Linked DNA regions of Homo sapiens: region 2 is reported to be linked to region 1. The links are microRNA targets in miRTarBase. Many come from high-throughput screens and were not tested one by one. Region 1 holds a microRNA gene; the other region holds the end of a gene's coding sequence.
The links. Region 1 holds the annotated microRNA hsa-miR-6840-3p (GCCCAGGACUUUGUGCGGGGUG, at 1,865-1,886, shown strand). A microRNA usually pairs through its seed, bases 2 to 8, with sites in the 3' UTR of a target mRNA and lowers its output. Matches are read on the target gene's strand: a 7mer-m8 pairs with bases 2 to 8, a 7mer-A1 pairs with bases 2 to 7 and ends in A, and an 8mer does both.

Region 2: the mRNA of RABL3 is a reported target of hsa-miR-6840-3p. Seed matches in the 3' UTR shown: 7mer-A1 at 807-813.

Annotation. Positions count from the first base shown.
Region 1 is chr7:100,354,832-100,358,005 of GRCh38, forward strand. It overlaps MIR6840 (microRNA 6840), which reads left to right and starts at 1,820; the gene lies at 1,820-1,890. It overlaps STAG3L5P-PVRIG2P-PILRB (STAG3L5P-PVRIG2P-PILRB readthrough), which reads left to right. Exons shown (of 17, transcript NR_036570.1): 12 at 312-409; 13 at 1,919-2,052.
Region 2 is chr3:120,687,080-120,690,079 of GRCh38, forward strand. RABL3 (RAB, member of RAS oncogene family like 3) reads right to left here. Exons shown (of 8, transcript NM_173825.5): 8 at 1-2,809. The coding sequence ends at 2,744. Among named protein-coding and RNA genes, the nearest start is that of HGD, 6.3 kb to the left of the region's middle.

The DNA of each region.
Region 1 (3,174 bases):
TGGCAATGTACAAGGGGCTCAGCCCTGTGGCTCATATGTGTAATCCCAGCACACTGAGAGGATGCCTTGAGCCTGGGAGATTGAGGCCAGCCTGGGTAACAGTGACACCACGTCTCTGCAAAAAAGAAAATTAGGGGAGAACTGTGGTGCGTGCCTATAGTCCCACCTACAGGCAGAGCGAGACCATGTCCCCCACTAAAAAGAGGCCAAGAATGCAGGAAATATAGATAATATGGGCCCTGTGATGGGTGGAGGCCAAATAGATCAATACAGAATTGAAGAAGACACAGAGCACTTGTATTTCCCTTCAGGCATAGCGCGCTGGCTAGGACTCCAGTACCGTGAAGGGAGGCAGTGAGAGCAGACATCTGTGCCTCATTCCTGATCTCAAGGGGAAAGCAAGAACAAGGTGGGTGCCAAGGAGGGGCAAGGGGCTGGGGCAGGCATAGACGTGGCTGGTGAGGAAAGGAGGATAGTTGTTGGGGGAAGGTGGGGACATACAAGCAGCAGTTCTCAAAATGGGCAGGGTCCTGGCCCCCTCCCTGCCTCTGCTGAACACTGCATCCCATGCCTCTCCCATGGCCACCTGCTGGGCTAACGGGCTGGATTTAGACTCTGCCCATGTTGGAATCATGCCCTCCTCCAGGGCCGGTGCCTCCCAAAACCCCCCTCTGAGAGAGAGCCACAGCCCCAGGCTTAGCCCCAGGCCCTGTCACTGCTGTTGGGGGAGGGAGGATGAACCATCCGGGAGGCCTCACACCATTCCAGAGCAGAAATCCTGACACAAAAGGAATCTCCCATGGGGGTTCAGCTGGGTCCAGAGCCCGGAAAGTGACATAAACACGCACCTTGCATCTAAGGAGAATGCACGTGGCGGTACCGGGCCTGAGGCCCCTGGGGAGTATGTACCCTCCAGAGCTACCCAGAGGCTGTTGGCTAAAAGTTCTATGTGGCCCCCTCCTTGGGCAGCCTGGTAAGCAGGTGACCTTCTAGCTGGGTCCCATGGGCCACGGGCAAGGCAGGAATGGAACGAAGAGTCAGTCCTCAGTGGCTGGGTGTTGTATCCCATGCCTATAATCCCAGCACTTTGGGAGGCTGAGGTGGGCAGATCACTTGAGGCCAGGAGTTTGAGACCAGCCTGGCCAACATGGTGAAACCCTGTCTCTACTAAAAATATAAAAATTAGCTGGGTGTGGTGGCACACACCTGTAATTCCCAGCTACTTGGAAGGCTGAGGCAGGAGAATTACTTGAACCCAGGAAGCAGAGGTTACCGTGAGCCAAGATCACACCATTGCACTCCAGCCTGGGCAACACAGCGAGAATCCATCTCAAAAAAAAAAAACAAAAAGTCCTCAGGCAGGGTGGGCCACCCTCTTGAGGCCTTGCCCAAACAGCCAGGGGGTCCCTTGTCCTCTTTTCGGCCCACCTTTGCAGGTGGGACCAGTTCAGTCCAAAGCCCCGGTGCCTCAGTTTCCCTGTGGGTTGAACAAGGAGAATGAGGTGTATAGGGCCTGGCTCAGACGGAGGGGTTTCCTGAGCATGGGGAGCCTGTTTCCTCAGACCTGTGAAGGGAAGGAGGGTGGATCGGCCTGACTGGCCCTGGGAAGCACAGAGGAGCCTACTGGGACCAGGGAAGAGACTGACAAGAGAAGGGAGGCCTGTCCCTGCCTGCTTCTGTCTCAAGAAGATTGTTATCACTTCCTCTGGTGAAATCCTGCCTTCCTGTCCCCACGGCCCCTCAGCTGATGCCACCTTACTCTGGAGAGGATGGGCAGAGCCTCCTATGGAGGGAGCCCTGTGGGTCACCAAAGCTCCAGTGACCACCCCCGGGCAAAGACCTGCAGATCCCCTGTTAGAGACGGGCCCAGGACTTTGTGCGGGGTGCCCACTGTTGCTCTGAGCCTTCACTTCCTCAGGGAGGCTTCCTCAGGATCTCGAACCTGCGGAAGGAGGACCAGTCTGTGTACTTCTGCCAAGTCCAGCTGGACATACAGATCAGGGAGGCTGTCGTGGCAGTCCATCAAGGGGACCCACCTCACCATCACCCAGGGTGAGTCCAGCTGCCCTGGCACCAAGGAACCTTCCTGGTTCAGCCATAGGCTCAGGTGTGTGGAGGGAATGACCTGAGGGGCTGTATGAGGGAACAACCTCCTGGGGCTCCCCTATGCCTGAGTTCCTGCAACTCAGAAGTTGAGGCCCAGAGATCCAGGTAGAGGGGGCTCCAGTCCTGGGACTGCCCTGCAAGTCATGTGGCCTGGGACAGGGCTTCTCCAAGCTCTGTCCCCTCCTGTGTAGGGCAGGGAGGTCAGAGGGGACCCTGCAGATCCAGTCTCATGTCTGGGGGTCAAGGGGTGGCCTCGAGAGGGACCAGTCTCTGTGTAGGGGACCGTCAGCCCCCTCACCCCTTGAGCAAGACTGTGGTCCCTGCACCAAGGGAGCAGGCCTGGGGTGGGAAGAGGCCAGCTGGGCTGTGGTGGTGCCTGGGGACTGCATGGGAGCCCCTGCCAGGGAGGGAGAGGGACAGAGGACAAGCTGGGGGCTCTGGTGCTTGGGCTGGGGGCTGAGCGCCTGTGACCTCCACTGGCTTCCTCCTTCTCCTCTCTGAGGACTGAATCTGGGGTGCAGCAGAGCACAGACTCAGGCCCGCCTTTCCTCTCCCTGAAAGAGCCTGCGCTGGCCTTGGACAGAGAAAGGGATGAGAAGTGAGGCTGAGTGCGGTGGGGTCTGCAGGGATCCAGGTGGGAGGGGCCCAGCCAGCCAAGGTGAGGCCCAGCCCCTCAGCAGGAAGATGGGCACTGGGGCCCTTGGGCAGGGCTGACTTGACACTTTTGTGTGACTTGAGCCACTGTGCCCAGCCTGAACACCCTTTCCTGGTAAAACACTCCACAAACCAGGAAGAGAAGGAATGTACTGCAACAAAATAAAGGCCAGTCATGCAAGGCCCATGGCTGAAAGTCTTTCAGTCATTTTAGATGAAAGACTGAAATCTTTGCCTCCAAGATCAGGAACAAGAGAAGGATGCCCGCTCTCACTACTTCTATTCAACACAGGATTTGAAGTCAGGCCGGGCACAGTGGCTCACGCCTGTAATCCCAGCACTTTTGGAGGCTGAGGCGGGCAGATTACTTGAGCCTATGAGTGTGAGACCACCCTGGCCAACATGGCAAAACCC
Region 2 (3,000 bases), not on the chromosome of region 1:
TCAACGTTAAGATGGAGAGACCAGCCCAAATCTTTAGTTGGATTCCAGCTAAGTCTTATACACCTAAGGGACAGAGGAGTAGTCATATATATGCCTTCATATCTGGTCACCTTCACAATGAGTCAGAAAATTGGTCAGACACCGAAATCACAACAGAAAAAAAAAATCTTTATTTCTACCAACTTGTCCCATCAAGAGAGTAAGATATACATATGTAAAGAGATGGAGTCCCACTCTGTCATCAGGCTGCTGGAAGGCAGTGGTGCAATCATGAATCACTGCAGCCTCAAACTCCCGAGCTCAAGTGATCCTCCTGCCTCAGTCTCCTAGAGTGCTGGGATTATAGGCGTGAGCCAGCACCTGGCCAATTATACTTTTAAAAAAATATTTTGACATTTATACTTGTTTATTATCTAAAAGCATTTTTATGAATAGTTCTCAAGAAGTCCTAGCAAAAATTGTGCTTCATTCTTTTTTGAATAACTCTAGCTAATAACATTCATTTGCGCAAAAAGCCTTATTATGCTGCTGCTAATAATTGCAACAAATTTACCTTAGATTATTAAAAACTATTTTTTCTTAGAAAACTATAATTCAAGGAATCAAGCTTGGCTGCAGAAAGTAATGGAGTTGAGGAATACTGTTAATTTTTCCAGATTGACCCTGGAGTCATCAGCAATAGTTTACTTTTATTATTTATTTATATATTTATATATTTATTTATTTATTTTCTTTTAGTTGGAGTCTCACTCTGTCACCTAGGCTGGAGTGCAGTGACACGATCTTGACTCACTGCAACCTCCACCTCCCAGGTTCAAGTGATTCTCCTGCCTCAGCCTCCCAAGTAGCTGGGATTACAGGCGCGTGCCACCAGGCCTGGCTAATTTTTGTATTTTTAGTAGAGACAGGGTTTCCCTATGTTGGCCAGGCTGGTCTCAAACTCCTGATATCAAGTGATCGACCCGCCTCCCAAAGTGTTGGGATTAAAGGTGTGAGCCACCGCGCCTGGCCTATTTTTATTTTTTAAATAAGATAGAAAATAAAAAAATCAGGATGAATTTTTTTAAAATTAAAAGAAAGAGGAAGAAAGAAGGAAGGAAGATTTATTTCTTGAAGGAGAAATACAAAGAGCTTAATTGGGTTAGGTCTCTGGGTAGCATTTGGTTTCTACTTCCCAACTGTACAGCCTATGCAACAACATACTTGTGACCAATTCTACATACAGATCATGATTTGCATAGCTTTCCTTTGTGTCAAAAAGAAACCAGGGCTATGTCCTTTCAAAGAGGAAGTAAAGAAAGGCTGGAGAACAGTCTAGCTGATGAAAGCTGCTTTAAAAATCCTTTTCCAAATTCCCAAGACTGCCTTTCTAAAAGGACTCTCTAACATTCTTATTTTAATATCCTCTTGCAGCATACCTTGATTTCCAAGATACTTCTGAAACCTAATTAAAATGGAACAGAAAGTGAATTTGGTGTTTTCCACCTATTTTTTAAATGAGAAATGAAAACTGTATATTTATTATTGTTATTTAAAAGTATGGAGCAAAATCAGGAGTGCAGAGACCTGCAGCAGAGCCAGAGAGAGAATACGGGTGATAGAGTGTTGAATAAATTGTTTTTAGAAATCAAATTCATATACTCAGGAAGAACTGGGGCAGAGAAGATTAAGCAAGCAAAAAGATAGGTTAAAAAAAGTAATGATGAACAATTACGGACACACACACACACACACACCATCCCCAAAAAGCTTTGGAGTGATTATGAAATCCAAGAATCCTAGTTCATAATTCATGTAAATGTGTTGCTGTGGAACTTATTTTTACTTCTCTCCATAAATACATTGTTGACACAGAATAATATTCTTAGTTTTCTGATTATAGCTAAGGGACATTTCAGGAGTTGACTTTTCCTTAAAAAAACAAATAGAGAGGAGGCTGTAAATGTCTCTCACTGCCCTTGTGCAGGTCTTAGATTTTACCCTACCTATTTCCAAACAGAAAACCTAGACTGTATATAGCAGCAACCTTAAGAGTGAGGGAGCTGTCAATTTTTCACATCATTTTACCAGAATTCTTTTTTTCTGGTATTGCTGTTCTCTATGTATTATTAATTTGTATTTATATTTAACTCTGGCTATTAGTCCGCCTCTTCCAGTCACTGAGCCATTTGCAAAGGAGAGAAGAGGGAGACAAGGGTTGCTATTATTAGGCATTCCTGTGTGTGACAATGGTGGAGACAATTAAATAACACCATTTTGCATCTTTGAAAATGACAGAGATTGTTTGGGGTAGACAACTCAGGGCTGGTTAACAAGACCGTTCCCCTCAAGAAGGTAAAACAATGGAGATACGTTTTTGAAGTACTTAATTAAGCTTTCAGCAATGAGTGTGGGAAAATTACAGACCCATAAAAACCCTCCAGTTCTAGGCAAGAGTAAATTTTCTCTGCAGTACACTGTCATTGCTCATTTACTGCATCATTTTGACAACATCTCATATTTACACAAGGCTTTTACATAATCTATACACAGGGACAGAAAGGTAAGGAACACAGAGAACAGGGACAAAGTTTGGACCTCCCGTATTGTCACTTCCTTTCATTTTTCCATTAAAGGGTAAGGCTGAAGGGTAGCATTTTAAGATGATTTTGTTAAAAGGCTGTGATGGTAATAATTGAACACAGCAAGATGAGCTGTGAAAAACTGCCACTGCTTGCTCACTCTTCCAAAGGATGAGTGTAATTCAGTCATAATGAAGGCTCTTTAATGTTCCTGCCCCAAATCTTTTCCGATCAGGAAAGCCTGGAATCTGTAGGCAAGAAAGATAATTGCATTAAGTCTCAAGCAATAAAAGTTCAAATACTAATAGTAATTTTTCCCTTCTTTTCCATTTCTGTATGTCAGCCTGCTGTTTCTTAAAAAAACAACTTTCTGAGGTTTTACTCAGAAAACCACAGATTAAATAATAAAAATAAATCTTACCCAAATGGAAAACATTTC